Homo sapiens: one gene and its partners. The protein of the gene in region 1 purifies or fractionates together with the protein of each later gene. This does not show direct contact. Each region holds a gene or a part of one and is shown on either strand. Other genes may lie near its edges.

What was found. The genes of interacting proteins can lie anywhere in the genome.
Region 2: the proteins of NTRK1 (region 1) and PFKP purify together in Homo sapiens (affinity purification with mass spectrometry; 2 studies listed by BioGRID and IntAct, with this or other methods). This does not show direct contact.
Region 3: the proteins of NTRK1 (region 1) and DNAJC7 purify together in Homo sapiens (affinity purification with mass spectrometry; 2 studies listed by BioGRID and IntAct, with this or other methods). This does not show direct contact.
Region 4: the proteins of NTRK1 (region 1) and ATP1A1 purify together in Homo sapiens (affinity purification with mass spectrometry; 2 studies listed by BioGRID and IntAct, with this or other methods). This does not show direct contact.

What each region holds. Positions count from the first base shown.
Region 1 is NC_000001.11:156,859,493-156,863,664, reverse strand, and holds the start of NTRK1 (high affinity nerve growth factor receptor isoform 2 precursor), read right to left. Parts: upstream 2,801-4,172; 5' UTR 2,731-2,800; coding exon 2,519-2,730; intron 1-2,518. UniProt on the Homo sapiens protein: Receptor tyrosine kinase involved in the development and the maturation of the central and peripheral nervous systems through regulation of proliferation, differentiation and survival of sympathetic and nervous neurons.
Region 2 is NC_000010.11:3,109,023-3,112,548, reverse strand, and holds part of PFKP (ATP-dependent 6-phosphofructokinase, platelet type), read right to left. Parts: intron 3,195-3,526; coding exon 3,069-3,194; intron 328-3,068; coding exon 263-327; intron 1-262. UniProt on the Homo sapiens protein: Catalyzes the phosphorylation of D-fructose 6-phosphate to fructose 1,6-bisphosphate by ATP, the first committing step of glycolysis.
Region 3 is NC_000017.11:41,989,939-41,993,464, reverse strand, and holds part of DNAJC7 (dnaJ homolog subfamily C member 7), read left to right. Parts: intron 1-3,082; coding exon 3,083-3,201; intron 3,202-3,526. UniProt on the Homo sapiens protein: Acts as a co-chaperone regulating the molecular chaperones HSP70 and HSP90 in folding of steroid receptors, such as the glucocorticoid receptor and the progesterone receptor.
Region 4 is NC_000001.11:116,383,219-116,386,744, reverse strand, and holds part of ATP1A1 (sodium/potassium-transporting ATPase subunit alpha-1), read right to left. Parts: intron 3,376-3,526; exon of another isoform or gene 3,192-3,375; intron 2,732-3,191; coding exon 2,621-2,731; intron 1,963-2,620; coding exon 1,903-1,962; intron 1-1,902. UniProt on the Homo sapiens protein: This is the catalytic component of the active enzyme, which catalyzes the hydrolysis of ATP coupled with the exchange of sodium and potassium ions across the plasma membrane.

The sequences.
Region 1 (4,172 bases):
CACAAACATCTCTGCACCCCCATAGCCTCTGGCCCCTCTTCACACCCAAGCAGCAACCCCTACTCCACCGAAACCTCCCCTACCATCTTTTCAGCAGATCAAGCAAGAGTCTTACAGGCTATCAGTTAGGGACCCCAAGGAGGGACCCAGGAAAGAGGAGAGGAGCAATGAGAGGAGGCAGTCAGAGTGTCGAGGAGGGGAGAAGAGGCACAGACTGGCTGACTTACACAGCAAGAGAGAGAGAGAGAGAGACAGAAAGATGGAAAGGCTCAACGAGGAGGGTGGGGGCAGACGGGCAGAAAAACAAAGAGAGAGTGAAACAGAGACACTGAAAGAGAAACTGACAGGAAGAGGTCAGAGAGATAGTGACAGGCAAGAAGGAAGACAGATAAGGGGAGGGAGACAGACAGATAAGGACAGAGAGCTACAGAAAGCGAGATAGACAAGAAAGAAAGAAGAATGAGTAGGCATTCGGGGCTAGGGGACAGCTGACGCCCTGGGGCCTGCCTAGCTGCTGGATCCGACATACCAGGGAGTTCCTGAGAACTCGGCTGCCCTGTAGTGACATGTTAGTGTGCCCCCCCCACCCCAACAATACACATGCCAGGGGCCCCTGACTCACTGACGGTTCTCAGAACTCTCCCCCTCTACCCTCTAACTTTCCCTAACTTATAGGAACCAGGACCAGCCTAAGTGACCCCTCCCTTCCTCCTTTCCTCCCTTCCCAGCCTTGGCCCCACCAGGACAGCCAGGATCAGGTCCTAAGTTTCCCTGTGGACTTAGTAGAGGCCTATAAAGTAACCTCCACTGACTCCGAGGGAGGCCAAGTCCCTATTCTACCCACCCCCCAGCCCCTGCCCAGAGGGTTTCAAGCTGTAGGGACCCAGGGAGGGGGTGAGAATGCAGTGGGCTGGCAGGGTGTGTGGGAGCTGTCAGGCCAGCGTGCTCAAAGCTGCCTCAAAGCTGCCTCATTCGTTTGGATTCATAATCAATCTGTCTATTCGAGTCCATTATCTCCTCGTTAGCTCTGCGGGTGAGTGAGGAGGGAGGGGGCTGTGCAGGCAGTGGGGAGGGGGATGTCAGGCTGCAGCCCCACCCAGGGGGACATCTCAGCTCACCACCCTACATGCTTGCTAGTCCCCAGTTCTGGCCTGTCCACTCCCCCTACCACTCCCATCCCTACCCTGCTGGACCCACTTGGGGCTTGGAAAGAGTTGGGAAACACGAGCCCTGATGGGGAGCACTCAGGAGTCTGGACCCCAATCTGAAGGCCCAGGGTGATGAGAGAACTGGACTAGGACTGGCAACCTGTCTCTCATGCCCCCTCCCATCATGCAGAGACCTAGGCCTAGACCAAGACAAGGCCATCTCCTCTACTCCTGGTCTCCCTAGAGCTATTAGAGAGAGAGATTGAGTGCCTTCCCGTTAATTACCATGAGATACCCAAGGAACTCAGTGCCAATTACTGCAAGCTGCTCAAGTAACTTCCAGACAGTGATGATCCTCACCTCGGATACCTTCCAGCCCATCACAGCACAAGGCCAAGGTTCCTTGTCCACCCTCGAAACCCCAGGCCACAGGAGGAGGATTTTCTAGCAGTTCTCCCCTCTTCTAGATGTCTTGCTGGCCATGATAGCCATATGTAATATTCAAGTATTTTCCAGCCATCACCATATGATGCCTGAGTACCTCCAGGCCAGTCATTACCGCATACTCCCATAGGTTTCACCAGCTGCTAAAAAGTACTTGAGTATTTTGTAACCAATTCCTGCAGAATGTCAGAGTCCTGCAGAATGCTGAAGATTCCTCCCAGCTTCGTGTACCAAAGGGAGGAGGGTCTCTCAGCAAGGGCCCTGACTCCCCGCCCCAGGTAGAGAGACAAGGTTGGAGAGGGAGATGGGAGTGGGGAGAGAAAATCCAGGAGGGGGTCCCATTTCCCAGATCCAAATCAACGGGTTCTGGGGGAAGGAATGGTAAAAATGGAAAGAGGAGAGCTCAACCACTCAGCTCCTCACCGCCTCCCACCAATGCCAGCCAGCTCAATCCCCAATTCCAGAAGAAAAGCTAGGGTTGCCTCCTCATAACAAGAAAGTGGGCGGGGGCTGGCTTGCCCCTAGAAAAGGAAAAAGGCAGTAAGGGTGACAAACTGGGGACTTCTCTGCTGGTAACCATCCTTCTCTGTAGGACAGAGCAGGGGCTTCTGGCTGAGCTCCAGAAAGCGCCTTCTAGACGGCTAGGCTCTCTCAGACCTGGTCCACGGAGATTTCCCCCTTCGATCTCCCTGAAGCCGGCGGCCCAGCTGCCCTGAACACTAGGGGACATCCAGGCACTGACCATAAAGCTTGCTAGGGCAGCGGCGGCTGCGGAGGAACGCCCGGGCAGCGCCGAAGGCTGCGTGGTGCCAGCCTTCCGCCGTGCTCGTCCTGCCTGACCAGCAAACAAGCAGCGAGTCCGCGCCCTCGGGGCACTGCAATGCCTGCCTGTCCCCGCGCCCCCCCACCGCCCGCCGGACACTCACAGCTCAGTCAGGTTCTCTGCGCCGGGCAGGTGGTGGAGGCTATCCAGGGCCCCATCCCGGGTGCATCGCAGTCCCGAGGAGCCGTGGGGGCAGCAGGCATCGGGGCAGGGTGCGGCGCCCGCAGATGCCAGTATCAGCCAAGCCAGCAGGCTGCCCGGCCCCGCAGCCCAGCTGTGCCAGCCAAGCTGCCCGCGCCGTCCGCCTCGCAGCATCGCGGCGGCGCCCGCCTCGCTCAGGCGGGGCAGCCGTCTGTGCGCTCCCAGCTGCAGCTGCCAGGCCTCCCCCGACATGTGCGCTGGGCGGTGTTAAAGACCCAGCCGCCAGGAAAGGGCGGAGCCAGCGGCCCCCGCCCGGCCCCGCCTTGCCCCTCTTCTCCACCCGCTTCCTACTCTCTGACGCCCCCCCCTCTGCCCCCTCCCCTGTTAGGGGCCCCCAGCGTCAGCCTTCTCCCCGAGGATCCGCCTCAGCTCCGGCAGACGCTGAGGGGCCGCAGCAGAACGCCTCGGAGGTGTCTGCTGAGGCCGGAGGTGGGAAGCTGATACGTTATTTCTCTCAGCTTAAAGCAGCTGCATTTTTACATTTGGGGAGGAGGGAAGATGACTGCGTTGAGGAAAGGTTGCTGTCCAGGTCATCCTAGCCAGCCCCAGGCTCAGCGCTCCATCCTCGCGGCGCGCGTGCCTAGGGGAGTGAGCATGTCACTTGGAGTAAGTTAGGTAGAACATTCTCCGAACTCTAGGAAGAAAACGAAAAGGACTACCAAAGGATCAATCGCAGAACCTGGGGAGGAAGACACAGACGGGGCAGAGAAAGGGAAGGGGTCGCCTAATCCGGCCGAAGGGAGTCCGGAGAGCCAAGACCGCGCCTCCAAGAGAAGCCACAGGGTGGCGCGAGAAGCCCGCGCGCAAAGGCGCGAGCTCCCCGCCCGCGCTGGGTGCCTGGGGGTGCGATCTGCAGCCCCCAGTGAGCAACGCCTCAGGTCTCAGCTTCAGTCCCTGACCCCGGCCAGCCAGCGCCGGCCCCGGGGCAGGATAGGGCAAGGCAGGGCAGGGCTGACATCGATCGCCTCCCTGACAAGAGCATCGATTTATTCGTGAAGAAATTAATAGATCTTCTCTTAGCTCCTCGGACGCAGGAGCCGCCCGCGGGTGGAGCTGAGGACCGCGCACCTTGGAGGCCGAGCACCTGGAAAGCCCCGGGATCCCCAGCACCCAGGGCAGCAGAAGGCTGGTCCCAACCCCTCCCACCGCGCAAGCCTCCGTGGCTGCACTAACCCATCCGTCTCAAGCTGGGGAGAGCGAAGGGAAGAGGGGTGTCTCTTGGCGGGGAGACAGGCAAGGCCCCAGGGAGCGGGGGAAGGACGACCTCCTAGAGGCTCACGGTTCTCTCCGCCAAGGCCCCAGCACGGATGGCCCCCCAAGTCCCCGAGACAGGGACACACAGACCGACCGAGCAGCCTGAGCTCAAGAAGGTGACCAGACGGAGGCAGAGCCCTACACAGTGATCGCCTTCTTCCTCGGGATCTTGGTCAGAACCAAGGGACTAGGCGGTGACGGAGCCTGGCGCTAAGGGGTCTCCAAAGAGGACAAGGAGGCCTCCTAGGAGGCTGAGAGGGGCTCCCAGAGGCCAAGGGCTGTCCACGTTCTCCCGGGTCGAG
Region 2 (3,526 bases), on another chromosome or scaffold:
CAAGTCACCTTGTGCCTTAATCTCATTAGCTCCTAAACAACCATCACCTTACCAAAAAGGACCAATGGCAAATTTAGAAAATGATTTCTCTCTAACCAGTCACCAGGGCCTGCTACTGCAAGAGCGGTGCTGTGAGTACTGCCTGACTTTCTGATTTTTCACAGTGACATGGAATAAGCACAACCCCTAAGCACGTTTGCAGTGGCTGGGCCTGAGGGGTGTGTGTTCCTGACAGGGCAGAGCTTTCTCCAAAGCACCTCACCTCCCTCGGAGTCGAACCGCATCTTGAAATCTCCTCTCGTCCATCGCCTTCTGCACATCCTGAGTCTTTTAAAACAATGATGAAAAGAAGAAAGAATGTGTCAGGACCTGGTGCATCATGGATGGGGTAGGTAGAGACTGGCTCGGTCCTTCCCACCAGCCCCCTCCAGTCTGACCCGGGCAGCCAGCAGCCCCAGGGTTAATGGTCTAGACGACCGGCCGCCAAGTGTGTCCTAATGCTGGTTGGCAGCCAGCCCCACACGGCCCGGCTGTGAGGTCAGAGCCCTGGGACTGCTTAGCTCAGGAGGCTTCTGAGGAAAAAGAGAAGGTGTCACCTGCTGTTTGTGGACACAACACTGTGAAGATTTAACTCCAAGAGAACAAAGCCAGAGGAAATGAAATCTCTCAGGCATGGTTCTAAGGAATTCTCAATTTGATTATGGTGGGGAAAAACAAAACAGAACACACCAGCTCACTGGGGGATGTGGGATGGGAGCGAGGTCACAGCGGGCGGGGGAGCAGAGGGGCCCGGATGGAGGCCCTGGGACACGGGGCTGGGACTGATGCACGCCAGGCAGCCCTGGGCAACGTCAGGATCTTGGTCAAGTTCTTTCTCGCTCTGAACTTCAATTTCCTCATCTGTAAGATGAGAAAAATACTCCTACTTCCAGCTATCTCTAAGGTTATTCAAGCATGTCAGACCCTCAGGAAGACGCCTGACAAACAGCAGGTGCACAGTAGTGGTCCCTCAGCTTTAAAAACAAAGCCACACAAGGGTGGTTTCAAGGTCAGGGCAAGTGACACCTACCACGGTCGTCTCTAGACAAGCAGAGACATGAGACACAGGCTCAAAATACACGTACCGCATGTCGTTCAGTGCTCTGAGCCTTTTAAGCCTACTGCCTCTCACATGCACACAGGCACACACTAACGTGCAGACACACACTACCTCACACTCCAACATACACACATATGCACATAAGCATACCTGCACACACAAACATGCAGACACACGCTACCTCACACTCATGCCAACATGCACACATCTGCATAGAAACATACCTGCACACACACACAAACATGCAGGCACATACTACCTCTCACAAACATACACACACATCCATATAAACACATGCACACACAGACATGCACACACTATCTCAAACATGCTCACACATGCATATAAGCATACATGCACACACATGCAGATGCATTACCTCACACACATATATACACATGCATATAAACATACATGCACACACTAACATGCAGAAACATACTACCTCACACTCAAATGTACACATGCATATACACACATGCACACACACTAACATGCACACACACTACCTCACAAAAACATGCACACACGTACAAACATGCATGCACACAAACATGCACACACATACATGCAGACATACTACCACAAACATGCATACTCATGCATATAAACATACACATACATGCAGACCCAAACTACCTCACAAACATGCACACACATGCATAAATATATGCATAAACCTGCATGTATATGCATATACAGAGATACACATGCACACACATATACATACATACACACAGAGACACAAGCCTGCGCACACACTCACACACATACACACAAATACTATTTTCTCCCTTGGGCTTTTGGAAATTATGTTTACAAGGTGACTTTCAACAAGTCCCTGACTTGATTGCTTCACGACTTCTTTGTGTGTGTTAAGAGGCAACAAAACAGGAGTCACGAATCATGAATGAACTCTGAAAAATAAAACAACAGCTGGGCGTGGTGGCTCATGCCTGTAATCCCAGCACTTTGGGAGGCCGAGGTGGATGGATCACAAGGTCAGGAGATCCAGACCATCCTGGCTAACACGGTGAAACCCCACCTCTACTAAAAATACAAAAAAAAAAAAAAAAAAAAAAAATTAGCCAGGCGTGGTGGTGGGCACCTGTAGTCCCAGCTACTCGGAAGGCTGAGGCAGGAGAATGGCGTGAACCCAGGAGGCGGAGCTTGCAGTGAGCCAAGATCACGCCACTGCACTCTAGCCTGGGCAACAGTGAGACTCCGTCTCTAAATAAATAAATTAATTAATTAAATAACTTCAAATGCAGCTAACTCCACAGCCACCTCCACTACTGAACCAATGCCTGAAAAGCTGGAACTGCTTTTCCCTTTGTTCATTTGCAGGCAGACAGTTCCCTGGCCCAAGAAGGGTGGGTGTATCTTCGGGTGACCAGAGCTTTCCCTGTGTCCCATCACAGACCTGAATGTCCTTGGGGATAGGAGGACAGGAAATGGCTGAAACTGGAGAAGTTTGGGAAGGTCCCACCTTCCCCTACAAAATACCACCCTGTAGATCTCTCTCACGCCCGCCTCCCTGCCTCCCTGCCCCCTCTGCCCCATGGGTCTCTCTCACGCCCGCCTCCCTGCAGTCTGTCCACGGATCTCTCTCTCTCGGCTGCCTCCCTGCACTCTGTCCTTCTGCAGCACCTGGTGCACTGGGGCCACCTGGATCCTCGACTGTTGAGGATCCCGATGCTCTAGACCCCCACTCAGGGGAGGTTACGACTATGTGCCACACAGATGGATGGTAACTTAGAAAACCAAAGAGCGAAGACGGCGCAGGCTCTGCAGGTGTGGGAGAGAACATAAGCCTTCTCCCTCCCCACGGGCAGCTCACCTCCTTCTCAGAAAGGCCGTGTAATGCATCGTGCACCGACGAGACACCCAAGGTGCCCAGGCTGGCCTGACAAGCAGCTTCTGTCCCAGCCGTCTCCGCCCTGCCCTTGGCCATGGGCTGCCCACTCACCATCTGCACGCACTCCATCAGCGGCAGGCGCACGGCGTGGTTCCCGTTCAGTGACACGACGCAAGCTGGGGTGTCCGGGGTGGCCTCTAGCAAGGCGATGACTGCCTCCACTCCCATGCGGCTGGCCTGGAAACCAGGTCCATGTGGGTCAGGGGCAGCCTCCCGTCCTGCCCTGTCCCTGTCACCTCCTATCTTTCCATGACGTCCAATGACCTCAGTCAGGTGCTCACAGCCCCTCCCGCTTCCAGCCCAACTCTTTAGAGCAAAGCGATTTCCACTCCTTTAGAACTGGCAAGACGGGAACAGAGAGGAGGTCAGGGCACATGGAGAGCAGGAGTGTTAAGAACTGAGGGTTTGTACTTGGGATTCCTGCTGCCCTGAGTCAGTTTCCAGAAACTCACTAGAAACACAGCCTTTCTGCCCTGGGATTGTGCCCTCTGGGGTCCACGTCGTGCCAA
Region 3 (3,526 bases), on another chromosome or scaffold:
TGTTTTGAGGCAGAGTCTTGGTCTGTTGCCCAGGCTGGAGTGCAGTGGCGGGATCTCGGCTCACTGCAAGCTCCGCCTCCTGGGTTCATGCCATTCTCCTGCCTCAGCCTCCTGAGTAGCTGGGACTACAGGCGGCCACCACCACGCCCAGCTAATTTTTTGTGTTTTTAGTAGAGACAGGGTTTCACCGTGTTAGCCAGGATGGTCTTGATCTCCTGACCTTGTGATCCTCCCGCCTTGGCCTCCCAAAGTGCTGGGATTACAGGCGTGAGCCACCACGCCTGGCCTCAGTAAATGTTTTGATAAGAGGATACATTAAGAATCATTCACATTGACTGATGGTCTTTTATTTGGTAATGTATATATCTGATTAGCTTATGCAGAGTCCCGGCAGTAACTTATTAGCATCCCTCTTCTGTCCATTGGTTTTAATAACCACAGTTGTCTTTGTAATGTAATTCATAAGTTTGTTTTGTTTGGCATGTGTGTGTTTGGAAAGCAATTCTGCCTACTGTCAGTTTTCTGAGGTTTACATAGGCAAAAGCTTTGTCTTGAGAGGTGGTCTTTTGGGTTTCTTTTCTCTCTTGCCTACTCCAGAGCCAGAATCCTGAGTTTGTGACAGAATCCTCTGTTTGTGACATCCCAGCCCCCCCACTGTAGCTCACGGTGATGTCACAAATGAAGAATTATGATCCTGGCAGGGGAAACAGATGAACTTGGAAGAAACAAAAGATCTTCTTTGCCTGCAGCTGTCCCTAGTCATGGGGAGGTTGGGGGGTGGGAAGTGAAGCACTGACGATCCCCATGATTAGCAGAACCAGCTCTGCATAAAACGGGGTCCTTGTGAAGGCAACAGGGTGTGGCTGCTGACATTTTGACTGACTTTTTCCTGCCCCCTCATTCCTTTTCCATCTGGGGGGGCAGGACAGTTAGCACAACTCTACCTACATAATGCTTAAGTTTTCATATTGTCCTTAGAACTTTCAGGACATGCCGAGTGCGGTGGCTCATGGCTGTAATCCCAGCACTTTGGGAGGCCGAGGTGGGCGGATCACCTGAGGTCGGGAGTTAGAGACCAGCCTGACCAACATGGAGAAACCCTGTCTTTACTAAAAATACAAAAAATTAGCCAGGCCTGGTGGCGCATGTCTGTAATCCCAGCTACTCAGAGGGCAAAGGCAGGAGAATTGCTTGAACCCGGGAGGCAGAGGTTGCAGTGAGCCAAGATCATGCCATTGCACTGCAGCCTGGGCAACAAGAACGAAACTCCATCTCAAAAAAAACAAAAAACAAAAAAACAGAAAACTTTCAGGACAGTAAACCTGTGCCACTGAAGGAGAGGCATTCCTGTCACTGCTGTGTGACACTGCAGAAAGTCTTCTCAGTGAAACAGCTGGTAATGTGGTAGTGTTTACTGACTTGCTCATATTTTAAATTTCAGTTTTGGAATAGGTGCTATTCATGGTTCAAAAACTAGAAAGTGTTGCCAGATGCAGTGGCTTATGCTTGTAATCCCAGCACTTTGGGAGGCCAAGGCAGGAGGATCACTTGAGGCGAGGAGTTCGAGACCAACCTGGGCAACTTATTGAGACCCTGTCTCTACAGATAATTTAAAATTTTAGCTGAGTGTGGTGACGTGTGCCTGCAGTCCCAACTACTCATGAGGCTGAGGCAGGAGAATCACTGGAGTCTGGGAAGTCGAGGCTGCAGTGAGCCATGATTGTGCCACTGATACTCCAGCCTGAACAGCAGAGCAAGACCCCATCTCAAAAACAAAACAAACAAAAGTTAGAAAGTATGAAAAATATTCAGTGATGAGTGTCCCCTCAAACTTGTCCTCTCTCCGCCCAGTTCTCACTCCCCTAAGCTAACCACTGTTCTTATGTCTTCTATTTTCTTCCTTAGTTTTGTTGTACTTATATAAAATAAAGATCCTTGATTTTCTCCCTTTATTTAGCGTGAAAGGTAGTATGCTTTATGGCAGGTCTGCACCTTTAAAAAAAAATCACTGAGTAGCTCTTGGAAGTCTTTCCATATTAGTACATGAAGAGCTTCTTCATTCTATTTTAGAACTATATAGTATTCCATTATATGAATGTCCATGTTAACTAACCAGTCTCCTGTGGATGGAATTTGAATTTTTCTGCTTGTAAGTTTTCAGAGTTTATCTCTTCCTGACCCCCATGGCCAAATTCTTAGAGGGAATAGGTGTCCCTTAACTCCAGATTTGTCCTTCGGTTCATTTATTCTCGGCGTGAATGTGATTCAGCAAGGCTCTCCCAGGAATAAATAGCAGCTAAACCAAAACTGAAAGCTCAGAGGACAAACTAGTAAAAAGAGAAAAACAGAATATATGGAGATGCTTTATGAGGCTGAAAGAGTAAATTAATCCCCACCTTTTTGTGTGTGTGATTGCTCCTTGGCTTGTGGTTTGTATAGTGGCATGTTGGGAATAGTAATCTGATGTAGCCTATTTAGAGCCATTTAAAATAACTATTTTAAGGCTGGGTGTGGTGGCTCACGCCTGTAATCCTAGCACTTCGGGAGGCTGAGGAGGACGGATCACGAGGATCAAGACCATCATGGCTAACATGGTGAAACCCTGTGTTTACTAAAAATACAAAAAAAAATTAGCTTGGGCGTGGTGGCGGGCGCCTGTAGTCCCAGCTACTCGGGAGGCTGAGGCAGGAGAATGGCGTGAACCCAGGAGGCAGAGGTGGCAGTGAGCCAAGATCCTGCCACTGCACTCCAGCCTGGGTGACAGAGTGAGACTCCATCTCAAAAAAAAAAAAAAAAGTGATAATATTGCCTATTTCATAAAATTCTTGTGAGGATTAAATGGGTTCATATATGAAAGTACCCAGTAAATGTTTACTGTCCTCATTATCATCTGGAGCCTTTGCTGTCCTCATTTCAGTGCTTTTATTTAATGAATTAGGTATGTTTTTAAACTTTGATATTACTTAGAAGTGGACCCAAAGACCTCATTGAGTTTTGAGTCTGTTACCTGTGACTAAACTAAAGTGAAGATGTTTCTGGAGTCCCTGATGAAGAGCCTTATTTGTTTTCTTCTTCCCTACAGGTTGTTTTCTGCATGGACCGTGCCCTAGAATTTGCCCCTGCCTGCCATCGCTTCAAAATCCTCAAGGCAGAATGTTTAGCAATGCTGGGTCGTTATCCAGAAGCACAGTCTGTGGCTAGGTATGCAGTCAGGCTAGCTGGACATTAAAATGCCAGATACCATTGGACTGATGGTGTCCGGCAGCTTCACCACAGGATATGGTCCCCAGAGTAGGCCAGCTAGGGCTGATCAGACCCTCTTGGGACTTAAAGTCAAAGATTAGACCAGCTTTGAAAACCCGTAGGGTATACAGGAGTATAGTAGTATAGCAGGTACTTGAGCTATATATGAAAGAACAGATTGTGTTTTTGTGGTTTTGTTTGTTTGTTTAAGGTAGTCCTTTTCCTTCTACTCCACTGGTTGGCACACTTTCTGCAAAGGGCCAGATTTTAGCCTTTGCAGGCC
Region 4 (3,526 bases), about 40 Mb from region 1:
ATTTTAGCCACCTCCCAATAAACCTGTTGACTGAAAAGTACTCACTGGAAAAAACCACTCTACTAAAGCCTGCTATTTTTCTAATGGGCCTTAAACCCAAGATTCACTGACAGCAGGCAATTACATATAAGCTCTCATTAAGAGAGGAAAATATGATCACTTTTATACTCTCAAAATAACAAGTCAAAAAAAAAATAAAATATTTTTGTCTAAAGTATCTATTTATCTGTGTTTTGTGCTCATGTTACCAAACATTTGAGTGCTATCTACATGCCAGGAACTGAATTCAGTGCTTTAATTAACTTGTTTAATTCTCATGACAATCCTTTTTTAGGCATTATTAACCTCATTTTATAAGTAAAGAAATAGACCCGCAGCATTTGAGTAATGGGCATAGGTCGGAGAGAGCACACTTCATTAAGACTCTAATAAAAACTTAAGTGAGATGTGAAGTGGCTAGAGACTGCCTGGCACAAAGTAAGCACAGAGTCACTGTTGGCATGTTGTTCTGAGCTGACTCGAGGCCTCCTCTTGGAGCTTAAAGTGCTTGTGTCAAGAAAAACGCTCTCAACCTTGTTCTTCTCTCCTTTTTTTTTTTTTTTTTTTTTTTTTTTTTTTGAGATGGAGTTTCACTCTTGTTGTCCAGGCTGGAGTGCAATGGCACAACCTTGGCTCACTGCAACCTCCACCTCCCAGGTTTAAGCAGTTCTCCTGCCTCAGCCTCCCGAGTAGCTGGGATTACAGGCATGCACCACCATGCCAGGCTAATTTTGTATTTTTAGTAGAGACGGGGTTTCTCCATGTTGGTCAGGCTGGTGTCGAACTCCTGACCTCAGGTGATCCACCAGTCTCAGCCTCCCAAAGTGCTGAGATTACAGGCATGAGCCACCGCACCCGGCCTCTTCTCTACTCTTACACCCCAACAATCAACACAGAAGATGACTTCTGTGAGCAAAGGTGTGGCGGTTTCTCCCCACCACCAAGGTTTCCTCCAATTCAATTCCAACACTATCTACCTGGAAAATCAGAAAAGTGGAACAAGATTAGAGTCCTGCCTTGCGACAGGTGAAAAGGAGGGCAGGAGAGAGATCCTGTTTCTTGAAGCCTGCCACTGAGGTCTAACACACCCAACATTATAACAAACGACTGTAATAAGGGCTATGGGAGTTATGAACCAGGAACTGTGGACAAAAACCAATATATATCAGAATACCACAGTACCCATGTCTCTTGATGCCTTACTGAAAAAATGCTACATATTGGCTTGCTATTCAAGTTATTCCCAGACATTTCAGTGATTATCTGGAAATAAGACATCCCTAGACTATTTACTTTTATAACATTTGTTACACATTTAATATCAAAATCCTCTACATAACAAGGATACATAACGCCTATTTTATGAAAAGGTTTCTTTAATTTTTGTACAAAACAATTTCCAACTAAATGATAGAATAACTAAACAAATGATAGTATAACCATAACACACTGCAATGGGCTAGCTGGGAAAAGTGCAAAAATGGGAATTGTTGAAGATTCAACTAGGTGAAAGATTCAACTCTATTTAACAAATGTAGAAAAATAAAGGGAAAATTTATCATCAAAAGGTCAAGGCATAAGCATGGCTTTGAAGCCAACTGCAAGTCCTGGTGTTCCCACTTACTGGCTCTCAACTGCTATAAAATAGGGAAAAGAAAATAACATCTACTTTCAAAAAGTTTCAGGGAAAAGAAACGGTAGCATATAAATGCCCAAATTCTGTGCATGTCACATGGTAGATACGCAGATGGTGTCTGTCATTTTCTTACTAGAGCCCCTGAGGTTAGACCTGTATGTAATACAGGGGAAAATATAATACGGAAAACTAGGATTTTGTACAACAGCTTTCAAACTAGAACATACCCGGCTCAAGTCTGTTCCATATTTACGATGAAGTTCATCAAGGCTAAGTTTATGATCATCCTAAGGGAAAACAGAAACAAAGAAAATAGTTAAACAGTGTAGTATAAAAAAATGACAGAAAAAATAGCATTATTCATTACTATCATTAAGCTTATTAAACAAAGTGCAGATGTTTTCTTCAGTGCATAAGTTGGTACAATTTTCACCATCGCTTTGTGGCTTTGCAACCACACAGTTATCATTGACAGCTCTTCACTGGAGAATGGCTAAAGCTGAGTGACCGTGGCCCATTACTATTTGCCATAACACTTCAGAGAAACCCAGCAGCTCTCAGGGATCTAGTAAAACCTTATCTGCCTTCTCTGATGACCAGGTCGATTCTAGACAGGTTAAGTCTATGGAAGCTTCCATCGCCTGGAGAGGCTGAATTTCCCAATGTTTGATATAATACAGAGAAAAGCAAAGACTCATGGTATCAACCTAAGTTCCTTCTGTTATCTCTGGTTATGCCAGAGTGACTGAATAACTTTTCCTACCCTCTAACAGCTTTTAAAAAGTATATGTTCAACATTAACCTCTACGACTAGATGAGATCTGTACAGCTGCTATGATCTCTTTTAATATATAGCAGTTCTTTGAAGAATACAGTGAGGCCTGGGGGATTAAAAATCATGGATTTTTAATAAGGATGGAATACAATATTCCTCCTAGTACTTACCATAGAAACTTCTTTCTTCAGTTCATCCATGTCCCTGTCTTTTTTGCCCTTTTTGCCCTTTTTATCACCTTGTTCTGAAACAGCTGCAGGCTCATACTTATCACGTCCAACCTGTAGGAGAATGTGGGAAAAGTGAGGCCATGAATTATGAACCTCATCTGAAACTGAAAATTCTGGAGCAGGGGATTTTGGTAGTTTTTAAGGTAGTCATAATTTGGAATAGTCATTAAGATAATAGTCAGGAAAATGTATACCCATATATTGCCTACTACATAAGCAAAGCAATCTACTATTAATACATTGGCTCAAGATACATTCTCTCCATCCAAGAGCATTAAGAACAATACTGAAGCTACCGGTAGGCTTCAGAATGGCCCTGCCAGTGCCACTTCCTTTTGGGGTTAATGAGGAGATTTTTGCTATCAAAATCCCTATTCTGCAGCCTTCCATCTTCCCTACTGAAAGAATGAAACTAACTTTACATTATTAACTTAGAGTGCAATATTGTGCTTATGAGTCCGCATTCTCAATCAGACAGCCTTGAGTTAAAATCCTGGGCTTTACCACTTACCAGCAGTGTATCCTTAGGCAAGTTACTAACTTCTACATTTCAATTTCCTCTTCCACAGCGTGGAGATAAAGAATAGTGCCAACCTCATTTCATGTTTTTAAGGATTAAATGATACAATACATCTAAATGCTAGTACTTTTATACTGTTTATATTCTTTGCTTTGCAAAGACATTATTACATATCAAATTTAAATATCTTTAGTGCTCACATAAGAACACTGACCTTTACCAGCTTCCCATATTAAAAAGTCAGCCTAAGACTCCTTAAAATTCTTTGCATAAGAGATAAAAAAGGGAGCGCCCAGCCCATTCTGTAGCCTGAAAATAAAACCTCC